2 linked regions of the Homo sapiens genome follow. The protein of the gene in region 1 purifies or fractionates together with the protein of each later gene. This does not show direct contact. Each region holds a gene or a part of one and is shown in the gene's direction. Other genes may lie near its edges.

Evidence for each region. Proteins that work in one complex are often made in the same cells at the same time.
Region 2: the proteins of SLC30A8 (region 1) and SLC25A12 purify together in Homo sapiens (affinity purification with mass spectrometry; one large-scale study listed by BioGRID and IntAct). This does not show direct contact.

Annotation. Positions count from the first base shown.
Region 1 is NC_000008.11:117,169,495-117,175,168, forward strand, and holds part of SLC30A8 (proton-coupled zinc antiporter SLC30A8), read left to right. Parts: intron 1-1,539; coding exon 1,540-1,674; intron 1,675-3,041; coding exon 3,042-3,187; 3' UTR 3,188-5,674. UniProt on the Homo sapiens protein: Proton-coupled zinc ion antiporter mediating the entry of zinc into the lumen of pancreatic beta cell secretory granules, thereby regulating insulin secretion.
Region 2 is NC_000002.12:171,786,223-171,789,800, reverse strand, and holds part of SLC25A12 (electrogenic aspartate/glutamate antiporter SLC25A12, mitochondrial), read left to right. Parts: intron 1-1,853; coding exon 1,854-2,012; intron 2,013-2,139; coding exon 2,140-2,230; intron 2,231-3,578. UniProt on the Homo sapiens protein: Mitochondrial electrogenic aspartate/glutamate antiporter that favors efflux of aspartate and entry of glutamate and proton within the mitochondria as part of the malate-aspartate shuttle.

The DNA of each region.
Region 1 (5,674 bases):
TAATCCTCTGGGAAGCTTTTAAACAATGCTTATGCTCAGGCCTCCCATACCCAGTGTTATTAGGCTGTTCTCACATTGCTATAAAGAAATACCTGAGACTGGATAATTTATAAAGAAAATAAGGTTAATTGGCTCATGGTTCTGCAGGCTGTACAGGAAGCATGGTGGCATTTGCTTCTGGGGAGGCCTCAAGAAGCTTCCAATAGCGGCAAAAGGCAAAGGGGGAGAAGGCACGTCACATGATGGGAATGGAGCAAGGGCAAGGGAGGTGCTACACACTTTTAAATGACCAAATCTTGCAAGAACTCACTCATCATCGCAAAGACAGCACCAAGCCATGAGGGATCTGGCACCATGACCCAAACACCTCCCACCAGGCCCCATTTCCAGCATTAGGGATTACAATTCAACATGAGACACTGGCAAGGATAAATATGCAAACTATATCACCCAGAGATTCTGATTTAATTGTCTGGGGTTGGGGCTGGCTTTGGTATTTTTAAAAACATGTAGTCAGACTAGAGAACCACTGCAAAGCAGAGCTGCTCAGTGGCTCATGAATGTTGGTGCAGTGGTTCTCAATCTTGGCTGCCTGATAGAATCACCAAATGAGCATTGATGTTGGGCCTTATCCACAGAGATTCTGATTTAATTGGTCTTGGGTGTAACTTAGTCATCAGGATTTCTAAAATCTCCTCTGGTAATACTAATGTGCATCCAAGGTTGAAAACCACTCTGAAAGACTCTAGATTTTGGAGCTTCATCCATAGAAATTTCCTTTTAGGTCTGGAATGGAGTCGTGGTACATTTATTTTTAATAAACACCCCAGGTGTTTGTGTTGTTTGTACATAACTGAAGTAGAGGCTAAAAAAGGGCTGTACTTAGACATCTCTTCTACAGCATCCTCCAATGTAGCTAAAATAATAGAAAACTTACAAACCGAATAAGATGGTATTATACAATGTTAGGATCCTCTATTAGCACAGTTCACTAAATGACCTGTTGAGTAACTAATCTTTGTACAACATTGCTGTTCATAATGATTAGATATTTTCTGAATTGCTCCTCAAAGATCTCTGTGATCTATGTGTTGTTCTTAACACCCTTATTTTACTACAAATGTGCTGAGGGTCAGAGAAGTTCTGGGATTTGGGTAAATTCACAATAGTTGTCGTCAGGATGCTAACCCATGATTATTTGATACCAAATTTCATGTTATTTCATTTTACTTTCCAGAGTGTATATAAAGATAGTTGGAAAAGGCACAGTTAGTTTAATAGTATACCATAAAAACTAAGGATAATTACCATTGTTGGTTATTGCATAGTAAATTCTGCAAGTATTCTGAGTGGGAAATTTTGATTGATGGTAAACCTTGAAGTAGTCAGGTAAATCTTATTTGTAAACATTTGAAGTAAGAAACCAGCAAAGGGATGAACACATTGAAATTTTGGTGAGGACTTTGCAGCTTGTTTAGGTAATTCAATGAGCTGTATCTAGTTGAATAACTACAGCCTCCATCTCTTCCCTTTTGTCAGGTGTGCCAAAGAGCCTGAATTACAGTGGTGTGAAAGAGCTTATTTTAGCAGTCGACGGGGTGCTGTCTGTGCACAGCCTGCACATCTGGTCTCTAACAATGAATCAAGTAATTCTCTCAGCTCATGTTGCTACAGGTCAGTGAGTTTTGTAAACACCCTGGAAAAAATTCAGTCCTTGTCCTGTAAAGTCAGTAATTTCCCTTCTTTTTGTAGAGCTGCCCTTATTGTCTGTTGCTTGTCAAAACATTATAAAGTGTTTTCTATTACCAAGGGCCTTTGAAACCAGCCCACTTATTGATGTTGTCATAGCAACAATGATACCCACGACATTCTTGGGGCTGACTGCAGAGGGCTGAGGACAGACAGAACAAAGGACTAAAATGCACCCGCCACTTCAAGGCCTTGGACTCTGAATATTCAACTTCATCTGTTTGGCTTGGTGCCCTATCAGTCAAATAATAGGAATGAATTAAAAACTTAATCTTAATTGAGTATCTCCTATGTATAAGATGTTTTTCCTGGCACTGAAAATAGGAAGATGAAAGAGACACCAGCCCCACTCTTAAATTTCTAACAAGCTAATGGATGTGCTAATAGGAATTATGGTGGGGTCCCACACTGTATGATTAGAAATTCTGTAGCCATGTGAGAAAATTCTTATAATACTAGGTTTATACTAAAATTACTTTTTCAAGAAGTTAATTTTGTCTCTGATATGTCCTAGAGCTGGGAGGATAGGCAGTGGGAGGGCATTTACTGCCTCAAGAGAAAGCTCAGGCCAAGGATAACACATTAGGCTGCTAAAAAATGACTCAAGGAGTTACTTAGGGGCAGGGGACAGGAACACTAGTGACAGTCATTTGAAAACTGTGCTTTCTCAGACATCGTCATCTTCTCGAAGGGGCTTAGGTCTGACTTGAGGGAATTTACAGCATTCACTATGCCAATATTTCACTGCAAATGGAAGAATCTAGTAAACACTCAGGTTGCTATGGAGGAGACTTTACAGCCTGCTGATAGCATTTGGGACAGGAAAAAAATGGCAGTGAGGGTTGCTGCTCTAAGAAAGGTCTGTGGGGAGCTCTAAACGCTTCCTGGTTCCTGTCACTATCCTTGATATAAATTCTGATTACATACAAAGCCTGCAACCCAGAGATCCCTGGGAGCTGGTGAGCAGGGCTGTATAAGAAATAATAGTTCTGTCTTGGCTTTTTCCAGGGCTTGTCTCCCCTTCCATAGTAAGCTCCTAGGAATGCCAGACTCCAGAGATAACAGTGGACAGAAAGAGTTCCCATAGCGACAGGGCACTTTGCTGCACTAGAGTTTCCCCTGCCTTGTCTGTGTGAATGTAGCTGATTATCAGAGCAAACGTGGCTTCCTCTGAGTGCCCTGCCTCTGCCCCACCCCAGCAGGTCAAAGACAAAGTACTTGAAGTTGGAGTCAGAGCAGTCGCCCATGCGTGTGCAATCAGTGCTAATCTCCCTGTGCTTCTTTATCAACAGCAGCCAGCCGGGACAGCCAAGTGGTTCGGAGAGAAATTGCTAAAGCCCTTAGCAAAAGCTTTACGATGCACTCACTCACCATTCAGATGGAATCTCCAGTTGACCAGGACCCCGACTGCCTTTTCTGTGAAGACCCCTGTGACTAGCTCAGTCACACCGTCAGTTTCCCAAATTTGACAGGCCACCTTCAAACATGCTGCTATGCAGTTTCTGCATCATAGAAAATAAGGAACCAAAGGAAGAAATTCATGTCATGGTGCAATGCACATTTTATCTATTTATTTAGTTCCATTCACCATGAAGGAAGAGGCACTGAGATCCATCAATCAATTGGATTATATACTGATCAGTAGCTGTGTTCAATTGCAGGAATGTGTATATAGATTATTCCTGAGTGGAGCCGAAGTAACAGCTGTTTGTAACTATCGGCAATACCAAATTCATCTCCCTTCCAATAATGCATCTTGAGAACACATAGGTAAATTTGAACTCAGGAAAGTCTTACTAGAAATCAGTGGAAGGGACAAATAGTCACAAAATTTTACCAAAACATTAGAAACAAAAAATAAGGAGAGCCAAGTCAGGAATAAAAGTGACTCTGTATGCTAACGCCACATTAGAACTTGGTTCTCTCACCAAGCTGTAATGTGATTTTTTTTTCTACTCTGAATTGGAAATATGTATGAATATACAGAGAAGTGCTTACAACTAATTTTTATTTACTTGTCACATTTTGGCAATAAATCCCTCTTATTTCTAAATTCTAACTTGTTTATTTCAAAACTTTATATAATCACTGTTCAAAAGGAAATATTTTCACCTACCAGAGTGCTTAAACACTGGCACCAGCCAAAGAATGTGGTTGTAGAGACCCAGAAGTCTTCAAGAACAGCCGACAAAAACATTCGAGTTGACCCCACCAAGTTGTTGCCACAGATAATTTAGATATTTACCTGCAAGAAGGAATAAAGCAGATGCAACCAATTCATTCAGTCCACGAGCATGATGTGAGCACTGCTTTGTGCTAGACATTGGGCTTAGCATTGAAACTATAAAGAGGAATCAGACGCAGCAAGTGCTTCTGTGTTCTGGTAGCAACTCAACACTATCTGTGGAGAGTAAACTGAAGATGTGCAGGCCAACATTCTGGAAATCCTATGTCAATGGGTTTGGTTTGGAACCTGGACTTCTGCATTTTTAAAAGTTACCCAGAGATGCTTCTAAAGATGAGCCATAGTCTAGAAGATTGTCAACCACAGGAGTTCATTGAGTGGGACAGCTAGACACATACATTGGCAGCTACAATAGTATCATGAATTGCAATGATGTAGTGGGGTATAAAAGGAAAGCGATGGATATTGCCGGATGGGCATGGCCAGTGATGTTTCACGTCATTGAGGTGACAGCTCTGCTGGACTTTGAATTACATATGGAGGCTCTCCAGGAAGACGAAGAAGAGAAGGACATTCTAGGCAAAAAGAAGACTAGGCACAAGGCACACTTATGTTTGTCTGTTAGCTTTTAGTTGAAAAAGCAAAATACATGATGCAAAGAAACCTCTCCACGCTGTGATTTTTAAAACTACATACTTTTTGCAACTTTATGGTTATGAGTATTGTAGAGAACAGGAGATAGGTCTTAGATGATTTTTATGTTGTTGTCAGACTCTAGCAAGGTACTAGAAACCTAGCAGGCATTAATAATTGTTGAGGCAATGACTCTGAGGCTATATCTGGGCCTTGTCATTATTTATCATTTATATTTGTATTTTTTTCTGAAATTTGAGGGCCAAGAAAACATTGACTTTGACTGAGGAGGTCACATCTGTGCCATCTCTGCAAATCAATCAGCACCACTGAAATAACTACTTAGCATTCTGCTGAGCTTTCCCTGCTCAGTAGAGACAAATATACTCATCCCCCACCTCAGTGAGCTTGTTTAGGCAACCAGGATTAGAGCTGCTCAGGTTCCCAACGTCTCCTGCCACATCGGGTTCTCAAAATGGAAAGAATGGTTTATGCCAAATCACTTTTCCTGTCTGAAGGACCACTGAATGGTTTTGTTTTTCCATATTTTGCATAGGACGCCCTAAAGACTAGGTGACTTGGCAAACACACAAGTGTTAGTATAATTCTTTGCTTCTGCTTCTTTTTGAAAATCATGTTTAGATTTGATTTTAAGTCAGAAATTCACTGAATGTCAGGTAATCATTATGGAGGGAGATTTGTGTGTCAACCAAAGTAATTGTCCCATGGCCCCAGGGTATTTCTGTTGTTTCCCTGAAATTCTGCTTTTTTAGTCAGCTAGATTGAAAACTCTGAACAGTAGATGTTTATATGGCAAAATGCAAGACAATCTACAAGGGAGATTTTAAGGATTTTGAGATGAAAAAACAGATGCTACTCAGGGGCTTTATGAACCATCCATCAATTCTGAAGTTCTGACTCTCCCATTACCCTTTCCCTGGTGTGGTCAGAACTCCAGGTCACTGGAAGTTAGTGGAATCATGTAGTTGAATTCTTTACTTCAAGACATTGTATTCTCTCCAGCTATCAAAACATTAATGATCTTTTATGTCTTTTTTTTGTTATTGTTATACTTTAAGTTCTGGGGTACATGTGCGGAACATGTAG
Region 2 (3,578 bases), on another chromosome or scaffold:
TGTGTCAGCCTCCCAAGTAGTTGGGACTACAGGCGTGTACCACCATGCCTGGCCAATTTTTGTATTTTTAGTAAAGACAGGGTTTCACCATGTTGGCCAGCACAGCTGGTCAGAGCCACACTGAGCTCTGTAATGGTTCATTACTGGTTGTATAGAGAGCAAACATGCACCCCTTCCTTCCTTTGTCTTTTCGGAGTGTTGGTGCAGCCAAGGACACCTGGTTCTCTCCTCCTTTTCCAAATCAGCTCCTTCCTAACTCAAGAGTCAGGCTGAGGCCGAGCTTGGTGGCTCATTCCTGTAATCCCAGCACTTTGGGAGGCCAAGGCGGGCAGATCACGAGGTCAGGAGATCGAGACCATCCTGGCTAACACGGTGAAACCCCGTCTCTACTAAAAATACAAAAAATTAGCCGGGCGTGGTGGCGGGCTTCTGTAGTCCCAGCTACTGGGGAGGCTGAGGCAGGAGAATGGCATGAACCTGGGAGGCGGAGCTTGCAGTGAGCCGAGATTGTGCCACTGCACTCCAGCCTGGGCGACAGAGTGAGACTGTCTCAAAAAAAAAAGAGAGTCAGGCTGTAAATGTGAGGTCTCAAACTCCTGACCTCAGGTGATCCTCCCATCTTGGCCTTCCAAAGTGCTGGGATTACAAGCGTGAACCACCACACTTGGCCCAGTCTCCTACTTTTAAATGGGGGCAGCATTTGCCTTCCAGGCTTTTCCTTGTGCTTTCCAATCAACAATGAAAAACAGCCAGAGAAGAAGAGTCTAATTGTGGACAGGTGTTTGCAAGTGGTTGAACCAAGTAAATATTTCCATGGAACTGTCAGCACCGACTTCTTCCCCATAGACATTTGATGTCAGTTTTCAGAATGAGATTATTTTTTCTAATTTTTACCAGTCAAGCTTTGCTAGCAGGAACTGAGAACATTCAGAAGTCTGCCTCCAAAGGCAGGAAGTTTACCTAGTTTCATCTGAATAGGGTGCAAGGCCATGCCAAGGGGAAGTATTTGCATTATTCCCTAGCAGAACCTCGTACAAGGCTGCCAACTCCATCCGCCTAGTGAGGATACAGTGATATTCAGGCCAAATTGAATTTCTTCCCCCGGGGAAGATTATTTTGCTCCTTTGCTCTCTGTTTTGTTTTATAAGTAAAAGGTGTGGTTGTGAAATCCATCTTTTGTGTCCTGCTGCTGATCAATCTCAACATGACCCCAGGGAGCTCGGGCACAGGGGCCTTTCCCTGACCAGCTCCCCTGTTGTTTCTTAACTGGCTGCCTGGCCACCTCTTGCTCCAGTTGTAATGACTTTTGTCATGTAAGCATGTCTGAAAGGAGTCACAGTCAACTCTCAAGGTAGCCCTTCAAACAAGCGAGTGATTATAAGTATTGATATTCACTTCCCACACTACGACAAGAATCAGCAAAAACAGTAGTTTGGTGTCAGATACATTTAGTGACTCACTAAGATGACATTATCATTTTTTTATACATAAAAATACTTGTATCTTATTTAAGAAAAAAAGGAGGTAAAATAATTGAAACTGAAAGGGAACGCTTGGGAATTGTCTTATTAATATTGCTACTTTTTTTTTCTCTCTCACAGTTATTTGGGATCATGCAATGTAGAGTGATTTTTTTTTTAATTCAGGAAAAAATAATAATAATTTTCCCCTGATCACACTGCAACAGCTAATAGGCTTCTATGCCCTTTTCCCATTAATGGCCAGACATCTATGTAAAGAGTTTTGAGTTCCGCTCAAGTGGTTGAAGTTGCAGGCTCTATAGTAGATGTTAGCAGTATTCCTATCTTTTATAAGGTACTCTAGATAAATTAAATGTGGTTTTCTCCTGAAAGGTGTCCCAGCTGCATCTCTGGTGACCCCTGCTGATGTCATCAAGACAAGACTGCAGGTGGCTGCCCGCGCTGGCCAGACGACATACAGTGGTGTCATCGACTGTTTCAGGAAGATTCTCCGGGAAGAAGGGCCCTCAGCATTTTGGAAAGGGACTGCAGGTAGGCAGGGGCTGGAGCCATACAGAATGGCTGGCTGGCTCTAGCGTCCTCCCCTGTGACTCAGTGGCTATCTTTACCACATTTGTCCTGGTTTCAAGTCTCCCCTGCCCCTGCTTCTCTTTTTCAGCTCGAGTGTTTCGATCCTCTCCCCAGTTTGGTGTTACCTTGGTCACTTATGAACTTCTCCAGCGGTGGTTTTACATTGATTTTGGAGGCCTGTAAGTCAGCTGCTCAACTCCTTTACAAAGAAATCACTAAGTCCAAAACAAATGTTTGTTCTGTCTACAAAAGCATTGTTGCAACTCTTAGAAAACTGATAAGACAGAACCTTTAAGACCAATGCATTTAAAACAGTGAGCTTAAGAAGCATTTGTGTTAAGCAAGTAAAACTTGACAGAGTGACATCGTACATAATATTAAGCAGCTATTTGGGGGATTTTAGGGAAGCAGCAAATTTTTTTAAAAAAGACAGGATATCCTCTGTTGCCCAGGCTGGAGTGCAGTGGCATGTTCTTGGCTCACCGTAGCCTCAACCTCCCGGGCTCAAGCGATCCTCCCACCTCAGCCTCCTGAGTAGCTGGGACCACAGAGGCATGCCACCACACCCAGCTAATTTTTGTACTTTTTTATAGAGATGGGATCTCACTGTGTTGCCCAGGCTGGTCTCGAACTCCACCAGCCTTGGCCTCCCAAAGTGCTGGGATTACAGACATGAGCTACCGTGCCTAGCCAGGAGGCAGCAGATTAAAATGCTGTGTAAATAATTGTCTTTTTTCACATAAGCAAATACTGAACTTCATGGCGTTCTCATTATGTGGATTTTATTATATGGCCCTTTCACAGAAGTAATGTAAATGTATACCAGTAACACTTTTGTGCATTTTCTTTCAAAGTCCCAAGCCCTTTTGCATCTCTGATATTTCATTATTCACCACAATTTATTATTAGTTAGGTGCAGATGTTCTTGAAGCTAATTTACTGGAAAAACCAATAGGTTTGAAGAGAGATTTTGCCCATGGATATAATCACTAGTGAGCTGTAGGCCAGAAATTGGGCTTCTAAAAGCTTACCACTTGAAGCTTGCACTGAGAAGAAGAATTACAAGTTGAATTTTCTGGGTGGGGAAGTTGTACCCAAAGCAAGCAATTATTAGCTTTTCAGCAGAAGACCAAGTACCATTCCTGAGTCCTCACATCAGAAACCTGTGAACTCCTCTGTGCCCAAAGGCCATATAGGGAATCAGCTGCTGAACCAAGTGGAGGGACCTATGCAAAAAAAGTGAGAACAGCAGTCTTACAGTTGCATTGTAGAAATGTGAGGCTTCAGGCTTTTCCATGCTTCTTTCATCTTCTGTAAAAGAACTAAAGCTATTTCTCTCTCTCTCTTTTTTTTTTTTTTTTTTTTTTAGACGGAGTCTTGCTCTGTCGCCCAGGCTGGAGTGCAGTGGTACGATCTCGGCTCACTGCAACCTCCACCTCCCAGGTTCAAGTGATTCTCCTGCCTCAGCCTCCTGAGAAGCTGGGACTAAGGGCGCCCACCACCGCGCCTGGCTAATTTTTTTTTTTT